2 linked regions of the Homo sapiens genome follow. The protein of the gene in region 1 purifies or fractionates together with the protein of each later gene. This does not show direct contact. Each region holds a gene or a part of one and is shown on either strand. Other genes may lie near its edges.

What was found.
Region 2: the proteins of TRMT1 (region 1) and PDPR purify together in Homo sapiens (co-immunoprecipitation; 2 studies listed by BioGRID and IntAct, with this or other methods). This does not show direct contact.

The regions. Positions count from the first base shown.
Region 1 is NC_000019.10:13,110,098-13,113,907, forward strand, and holds part of TRMT1 (tRNA (guanine(26)-N(2))-dimethyltransferase), read right to left. Parts: intron 2,915-3,810; coding exon 2,799-2,914; intron 2,721-2,798; coding exon 2,608-2,720; intron 210-2,607; coding exon 61-209; intron 1-60. UniProt on the Homo sapiens protein: Dimethylates a single guanine residue at position 26 of most nuclear- and mitochondrial-encoded tRNAs using S-adenosyl-L-methionine as donor of the methyl groups. tRNA guanine(26)-dimethylation is required for redox homeostasis and ensure proper cellular proliferation and oxidative stress survival.
Region 2 is NC_000016.10:70,117,332-70,120,831, forward strand, and holds part of PDPR (pyruvate dehydrogenase phosphatase regulatory subunit, mitochondrial isoform 1 precursor), read left to right. Parts: intron 1-155; exon of another isoform or gene 156-1,764; intron 1,765-3,129; 5' UTR 3,130-3,161; coding exon 3,162-3,388; intron 3,389-3,500. UniProt on the Homo sapiens protein: Decreases the sensitivity of PDP1 to magnesium ions, and this inhibition is reversed by the polyamine spermine.

The DNA of each region.
Region 1 (3,810 bases):
CCCAGGGCAAGGTCCTGTCTCCTCTCTCAATCCACCACCGCTCTCTGCCCCCGGGCTGACCTGGCTGAGGCCTTGACCTTGGCCTGGCCGGTGAAGACACGGACAAAAACACGCACGTAGAAGTCAGCGCTGATGCTGAGCAGCGGCACCACGAAGCGCTGGTAGCAGTTGGCGCGGAGGTCCAGGCTGTGCAGGACGATTCTCAGGGCCTGGGGGTGGGGGGTGGGTGTCAGCCTCCCCTCCACTATCCACCCACCCCACCAGGAGCCCTATGTGGTACTCACAAGTACAGGCTCAGGGCCAGCTCCCTGGGATCCAAGCCCACCCCTGAAAGTCCTGGCTGTGGGACCCTCAACAAGTGAGTATCCCCTCTCTGTGCCTCAGTTTCTTCATCTGCAAAATCACAACAGTCCCTGTCTGTGGCACTGCTGGGGGCACTAAACGAGTGAGGAAAGCATAGATCCAACCTATTCTGACCAGCATTATCGGTGTGCCATGTGGCATGTACTGAGGACCCACGTTCCAGCCCCCAAGGGCTCTGTGGGCAGGAAGTGGGGATACTAGGTGCTGTAGAACTGCTGGGGCCTGGGCCGGGCGTGGTGGCTCATGCCTGTAATCCCAGCACTTTGGGAGGCTGGTCAGGAGTTTGAGACCAGCCTGGCTAACATGATGAAATCCCCGTCTCTACTAAAAATACAAAAAATTAGCTGGGTGTGGTGGCGGGCGCCTGTAATCCCAGCTACTAGGGAGGCCGAGGCAGGAGAATCACTTGAACCTGGGAGGCGAAGGTTGCAGTTAGCTGAGATCTCACCACTGCACTCCAGCCTGGGCAACAAGAGTGAAACTCCATCTCAAAAAAGAAAAAAAAGCAAAACGGCTAGGGCTTTCCTGCTAGTGTGAGACTCTGATATGGGAAAGGAGACAGCATTTCCCGGGCTGACTTCATGACAGGACCCTTTAGGAACAAGGGCAAGAGCCCTCTGTGGACCACGCTGGAGTGCAGTGGCACTATCAAAGCTCACAATAACTTTGAACTCCTAGGCTCAAGTGATCCTCCTGCCTCAGCCTCCAGAGTAGCTGGGACCACAGGCATCCACCACCACACCTAGGTAATTTTTAGGGTTTTTTTGTAGAGATGGGGTCCTCGCTATGTTGCCCAGGTTCCTGACCTCAAGTGATCCTCCCACCTTGGCCTCCGAAAGTGCTAGGATTACAGGCATGAGCCGCTGCACTTCGCCACTCAGCCTTCTTGAATCCTGATCAGACACTCAATAGGGTCAGACCATTTTTTTTTTTTTTTTTTGAGACAGAGTTTTGCTCTTGTTGCCCAGGCTGGAGTGCAATGGTGCCATCTCGGCTCACCGCAACCTCCACCTCCCGGGTTCAAGTGATTCTCCTGCCTCAGCCTCCCGAATAGCTGGGATTACAAGCACCCACCACCACGCCCAGCTAATTTTTTTTTTTTTTTTTTTGTATTTTTAGTAGAGACGGGGTTTCACCATGTTGGCCAGGGTGCTCTTGAACACCTGACCTCTTGAACACCGCCCACCTCGGCCTCCCAGAGTGCTGGGATTACAGGCGTGAGCCACCGCGCCCGGCCTATTTTTTTTTCTTTTTTTTGAGACAGAGTCTTGCTCTGTCGCCCAGGCTGGAGTGCAGTGGCACAGTCTCAGCTCACTGCAAGCTCCACCTCCTGGGTTCACGCCATTCTCCTGCCTCCGCCTCCCGAACAGCTGGGACTACAGGTGCCCGCTACCATGCCTGGCTAAGTTTTTGTATGTTTAGTGGAGATCAGATTTCACCATGTTAGCCAGGATGGTCTCAATCTCCTGACCTCATGATCCGCCCACCTCGACTTCCCAAAGTGCTGGGATTACAGGCGTGAGCTACCACGCCCGGCCTATTTTTTTTCTTTTTGAGATGGGGTCTCCCTCCCAGGCTGGCGTGCAGCGGAGTGATCTTGGCTCACTGCAACCTCGCCTCCTGGGTTCAAGTGATTCTCCTGCCTCAGCCTCCTGAGTAGCCGGGATTACAGGTATCTGCCACCATGCCTGGCTAATTTTTGTATTTTTAGTAGAGATGGGGTTTTACCATGTTGGCCAGCTGGTCTCAAAGTCCTGACCTCAGGTGATCCACCTGCCTAGGCCTCCCAAAGTGCTGGGATTACAGGTGTGAGCCACTGCGCCCGGCCTTCAGACCATCATTGTGCCCATTTTACAGATGCAAAAAAACCCGAGGACCAGAAAGGTGAAGTCACTTGCCCAGAGCTACCAGCAAAGCTAGGATTTAAACCCAGTCCTGGAAAAACGACCTTTAAAAAAAAAATTTTTTTTTGAAAAGTTGTTTTAATACAGAAAACTAAAATAATGTGGCCATGCACTCCTGTCCTGGCCAAAGCCACTGTCCCCAAATGACCATGATTATCAGCCATGCTCTTAGGAACTATGTGGGTTGAAGACACGCCTGTCGTTAACAGCCTGGGATGCATCTGGCCATCAGCCTGGAGGAAGCTGAGCAGGTCTGAGGAGGGGGAAAGTGTATTGGGAAGGGACTCAGACAACCACCTGTCCCCCGGTCTCCCTGGCTGGCTGGCAGAGGGCCCCTCACCATCTCGTGGCAGGCCCGGCTCTTGAGGGCCATGGCCCCGTACTTGCTGTAGCACGTCTCCCCGCTGTTCCCCGCCAACACCGCCATGTCTGTGCAGGTCACACACAGCAACCCTGCAGAGAGGGGCTGGGCAGTGAGAACCCTCCAACACCCCAAGCCCTGCTCCCACCCCAGTGCCATCCCCACCTCACCTCCTTCACTCACAGCCTGCACAGCTGCATCCAGGAAGGTGGCTGGGCTGCCATAGGGGTCCAGATCGATGACGTCAAACCTCTCCGACACCCTCTGGTGCTGGTACATCAGCATCCTGGGTGCAAAGAGGGCCAGGTCCTCAGCCTCCCACGCCAGGTACCTTCTCTGTCCCCTACACATATTAACTCGTACAGCACAGTGGTTTGGGTCTGAACTCCGGGGCCAGATTCCCAAGTTCAAGTCCTGGCTCAGTCATTTATTTATTTATTTATTTTATTTTTGAGTCGGAGTCTTGCTCTGTCAGCCAGCTGGAGTGCAGTGTTGTGATCTCGGCTCCCTGCAACCTCCGCTTCCCCAGTTCAAGCAATTCTCGCGCCTCAGCCTCCCGAGTAGAGTAGCTGGGACTACAGACATGTGCCACCACGCCCAGCTAATTTTTGTATTTTTAGTAGAGATGGGGTTTCAACATGTTGGCCAGGCTGGTCTCAAACTCCTGACCTCAAGTGATCCATCCACCTCGGCCTCCCAAAGTGCTGAGATTACAAGTGTGAGCCACTGCACTGGCCTTGGTCATTTATTAAACTGCACAATTTTCCTACTTAGGAAAAGCACCATGTGGAACTCAGTCCACACATCTAAAACAACAACAATACTGATATAAGACGTATCTGCCTGACACCATTTCAAGCAGTTTATAGATGTATTAACACATTTTTTTTTTCCTTTCTTTGGAGACAGAGTCTCGCTGTGTCACCCAGGCTGGAGTGCAGTGGTGGGTTCTCGGCGCACTGCAACTTCCACCTCCTGGGTTCAAGCGATTCTCCTGCCTCAGCTTCCCAAGTAGCTGGGATTACAGGCACGTGCCACCATGCCTGGCTAATTTTTATATTTTTAGTAGAGACGAGGTTTTACCATGTTGGCCAGGCTGGTCTCGAGCTCCTGACCTCAAGTGATCCGCCCACCTCGGCCTTCCAAAGTGCTGGGATTACAGGGGTGAGCCACTGCGTCTGA
Region 2 (3,500 bases), on another chromosome or scaffold:
GTGAAACCCCGTCTCTCCTAAAAATTAAAAAAAAAAATTAGCCAGGCATGGTGGTGGGTGCCTGTAGTCCCAGCTACTCAGGAGGCTGAGGCAGGAGAATGGCATCAACCCAGGAGGCAGAGCTTGCAGTGAGCTGAGATCGCACCACTGCACTCCAGCCTGGGCGACAGAGCGAGACTCCATCTCAAAAAAAATAAATAAGATGTCAAAGAGGCTGTGACCTGAGGAGATTACCTGTATTTGGGGGAGAGGTGGCAGGAACCATGCCAGGAGGGAACAGCATGCACAGAACCTGGAGCCGAATAGAACACTCACGCCTCACCTGATATGTTTGACGAATTACAGGTTGTTCAGTCTGGTTTGGTCAGAGTGTGAGGAAAGGAGAAATGAGACCACAGATAAGAACCAGAGTGTGAAGGATCTTGCACTTGATATGAAAAGAGTTTTGCCTTTTTCCTGAGGGCATCAGAAAGTCATTAAGGTGGGTGTGGTGGTTCACGCCTATAATCCCAGCACTTTGGGAGGCCAAGGCCAGTGGATCACCTGAGGTCAGGAGTTCAAGACCAGCCTAATCAACATGGTGAAACCCTGTCTGTACTAAAAATACAAAAAGTAACTGGGCGTGGTGGCGCGTGCTTGTAGTTCCAGCTGTTCAGGAGGCCGAGGCAGGAGAATTGCTTGAACCTGGGATGCAGAGGTTGCAGTGAGCCGAGATCACACCGCTGCACTCCCAGCTGGGCGACAGAGTGAGACTCTGTCTCAAAAAAAAAAAAAAAATTGCTGAGGAAAAGCAGCAAAAAGGGAGGGAAACGTTGCAGGTACATGAAAGAGAGATAGCAGTTGATGGAGCTAGGGTCAAGAGAAGAGAGGAGGAAGTGGGATCCAGGGCCCTTGGGGGAGATTAACTTTCCAGTGGATAAAAGAAGGAAGGAAGAGATGGTTGCAGATGCAAGTGGGTCTATAGGAAGGGTTTCAGGGAATGAGATGAGCCAGGTTATCTGCTTAGAATGAGGGAAGAAAGGAGGTGAAATTGAAGGTTGAGAGAGGAATAGCTGGGCTCTGAACCTGAATACAGACAGAGGTCTGCCTGTGGCTTAACATGTGCTAGCCTAAGCCACCAAGGAGCAGGACAGTTTTCAAGTATAACCGAGTGGTCACGGGTCAGAAGCCAGGAGGTTGACAGTGAGGTCAATGGGACGGGGCTGGCCATTTGGCAGCAGCAGTTCCCCAGGAGAGCTGTGTTGCCATTGGGACAGAGGGTAGAGAGAATGTCAGCAAAGGGGTGGGTGTTTACCTTTGGGAAAGGTATTCTGGAGGGTGCAGTAGAGGGGCTTGAAGGAGAGGAAAGCAAAGAGAGCTTGGGCCACGGGAAATAAATTGGTCACGTGGAGATGAGATTATGGAAAGACTAGCCGGGTAGAGAAGCTTCTGTTTTGAGATGGTGCTTAACAGGGACCAGGGATGAGAGGCATGGTGGCAACCACAAGGTGGCCAAGACAATTTGTCTCCAGTTGGATGGGATGTCTGCCTGGACACAGTCTGTGCTTGCATTGGTTGCAATTCTGAGAGTCATCTCTGATGGATGGACATAGATACCTTGGCCTTGGACAATTTGTGCTGACTGTGGAGCATCTGTGGGTCCTGTGGCTGGCAGTGGAGGCGGTAAGGAGATGACTAGCAGTGAGCTACCCTAAGGCCCCCTTGTCTACCGCCTCTCGTCTCAAAGTCCTCATCCTCCTGTACACATGACTGCATGGACAGCCAGTAGGTGCTTTCTTCTTCAGTTTCTTGAAACTTGAACAGTCATCTGTTTTGCTGATAGATTAAGTTTGTTAAAACCCTGCCTTGTCCAAGGGCAGTGGTTCATGCCTGTAATCTCAACACTTTGGGAGACCAAGGTGGGAGGATCACTTGAGCCTAGGAAGTCAACTCTGTTTTTCTTATAATTCTACCATCCGCTCTCCACCATGGAGCCAGACTGACCTTTGGAAAACATCCCCCAACCCCCCACCGCCAAAAAAAACAAAGAAAAGAAAAACATCCCAGATCATTTCATTCCCCTGCTAGTGATACTCCCGCATGAGTGATTTTCCTTTGTACTTTGAATAAAATTCCAACTCCTGCTGATGGCACCCAAGGGCTGTGTGTAACTGGCTTCCGCCTGCCTCTCCAGCATTGTCTTAGATCATCTCCCCACACTCCCCGTGTCGTGTACATGCCGGCCTCCTTTTTGTTCTTGGTCTGTCTTACCTCAGGGCTTTTGCACATGCTCGTCTCAGTGTCTGCCAAATGTATAGCTCGTTCCTTATCCTTCAGGTCTGTTTCCAAATGTCACTTCCTTGGAGGCTGTTTCTGACCATCCTGTTTTAAATATGCCCCTAGTTACTCTATCATGTTAGCTTTATTTACTGTTTTATTTGTATGTTTATTTGTATATTGATTGGTGTTCTCCTCATTCACACACGCAAACTCTCAAATGTAAATTTCATAAAGACAGGGACTTCCCCATTCTTGTTCACTGCTAGCAGAATATCTGAAACTCAGAATGCCCTCAAATATTTCTTTTTTTGTTTTTTTTTTGTTTGTTTGTTTGTTTTTTTTTTGAGACGGAGTCTCGCTCTGTCGCCCAGGCTGGAGTGCGGTGGCGCGATCTCTGCTCGCTGCAGCCTCCGCCTCCCGGGTTCAAGCAATTCTCCTGCCTCAGCCTCCTGAGTAGCTGGGATTACAGGCACCTGCCACCATGCCCAGCTAATTTTTGTGTTTTTAGTAGAGACAGGGTTTCACCATGTTGGTAAGACTGGTCTCGAACCCCTGACCTCGTTATCCACTCGCCGCGGCCTCCCAAAGTGCTGGGATTACAGGTGTGAGCCACTGCGCCCAGCCTAAGTTTTTGAATTTTTAGTAGAGACGGGGTTTCACTGTGTTAGCCAGGATGGTCTCGATCTCCTGACCTCGTGATCCGCCCGCCTTGGCCTCCCAGAGTGCTGGGATTACAGGTGTGAGGCACCATGCCCAGCCACCCTCAAATATTTGCTGAATGAATGGCTATCGTTCTTTGTCAAATCCCTTTCTCATTAATCCCATGCACTGAGTAGAATGGCATGAAATATGTTTGGTTTCTCTGTCTAGTTTGAGTTCCTGAGATCTAGTTGGTGAGAGACATGATGTTCTACCGGTTGCTGTCGATTGTTGGAAGACAAAGAGCCAGCCCAGGATGGCAGAACTGGTCCTCTGCAAGAAACAGCACGTCAGCTGCCGAGGCGCGTTCCATGGCCCTGCCCACCCAGGCACAGGTGGTCATCTGTGGAGGTGGAATCACGGGCACTTCTGTGGCCTATCACCTCTCCAAAATGGGGTGGAAGGATATTGTCCTTTTGGAGCAGGGCAGGTAAGGATCAGACTGCATTTGGCTCATGGCTGTGCTGCACTAATCGTATAAGATTCCCTCTCCTTTCAGAGATACTGCCCCACCAGTAGCTAATCTAAATGTTGCTAAGTAG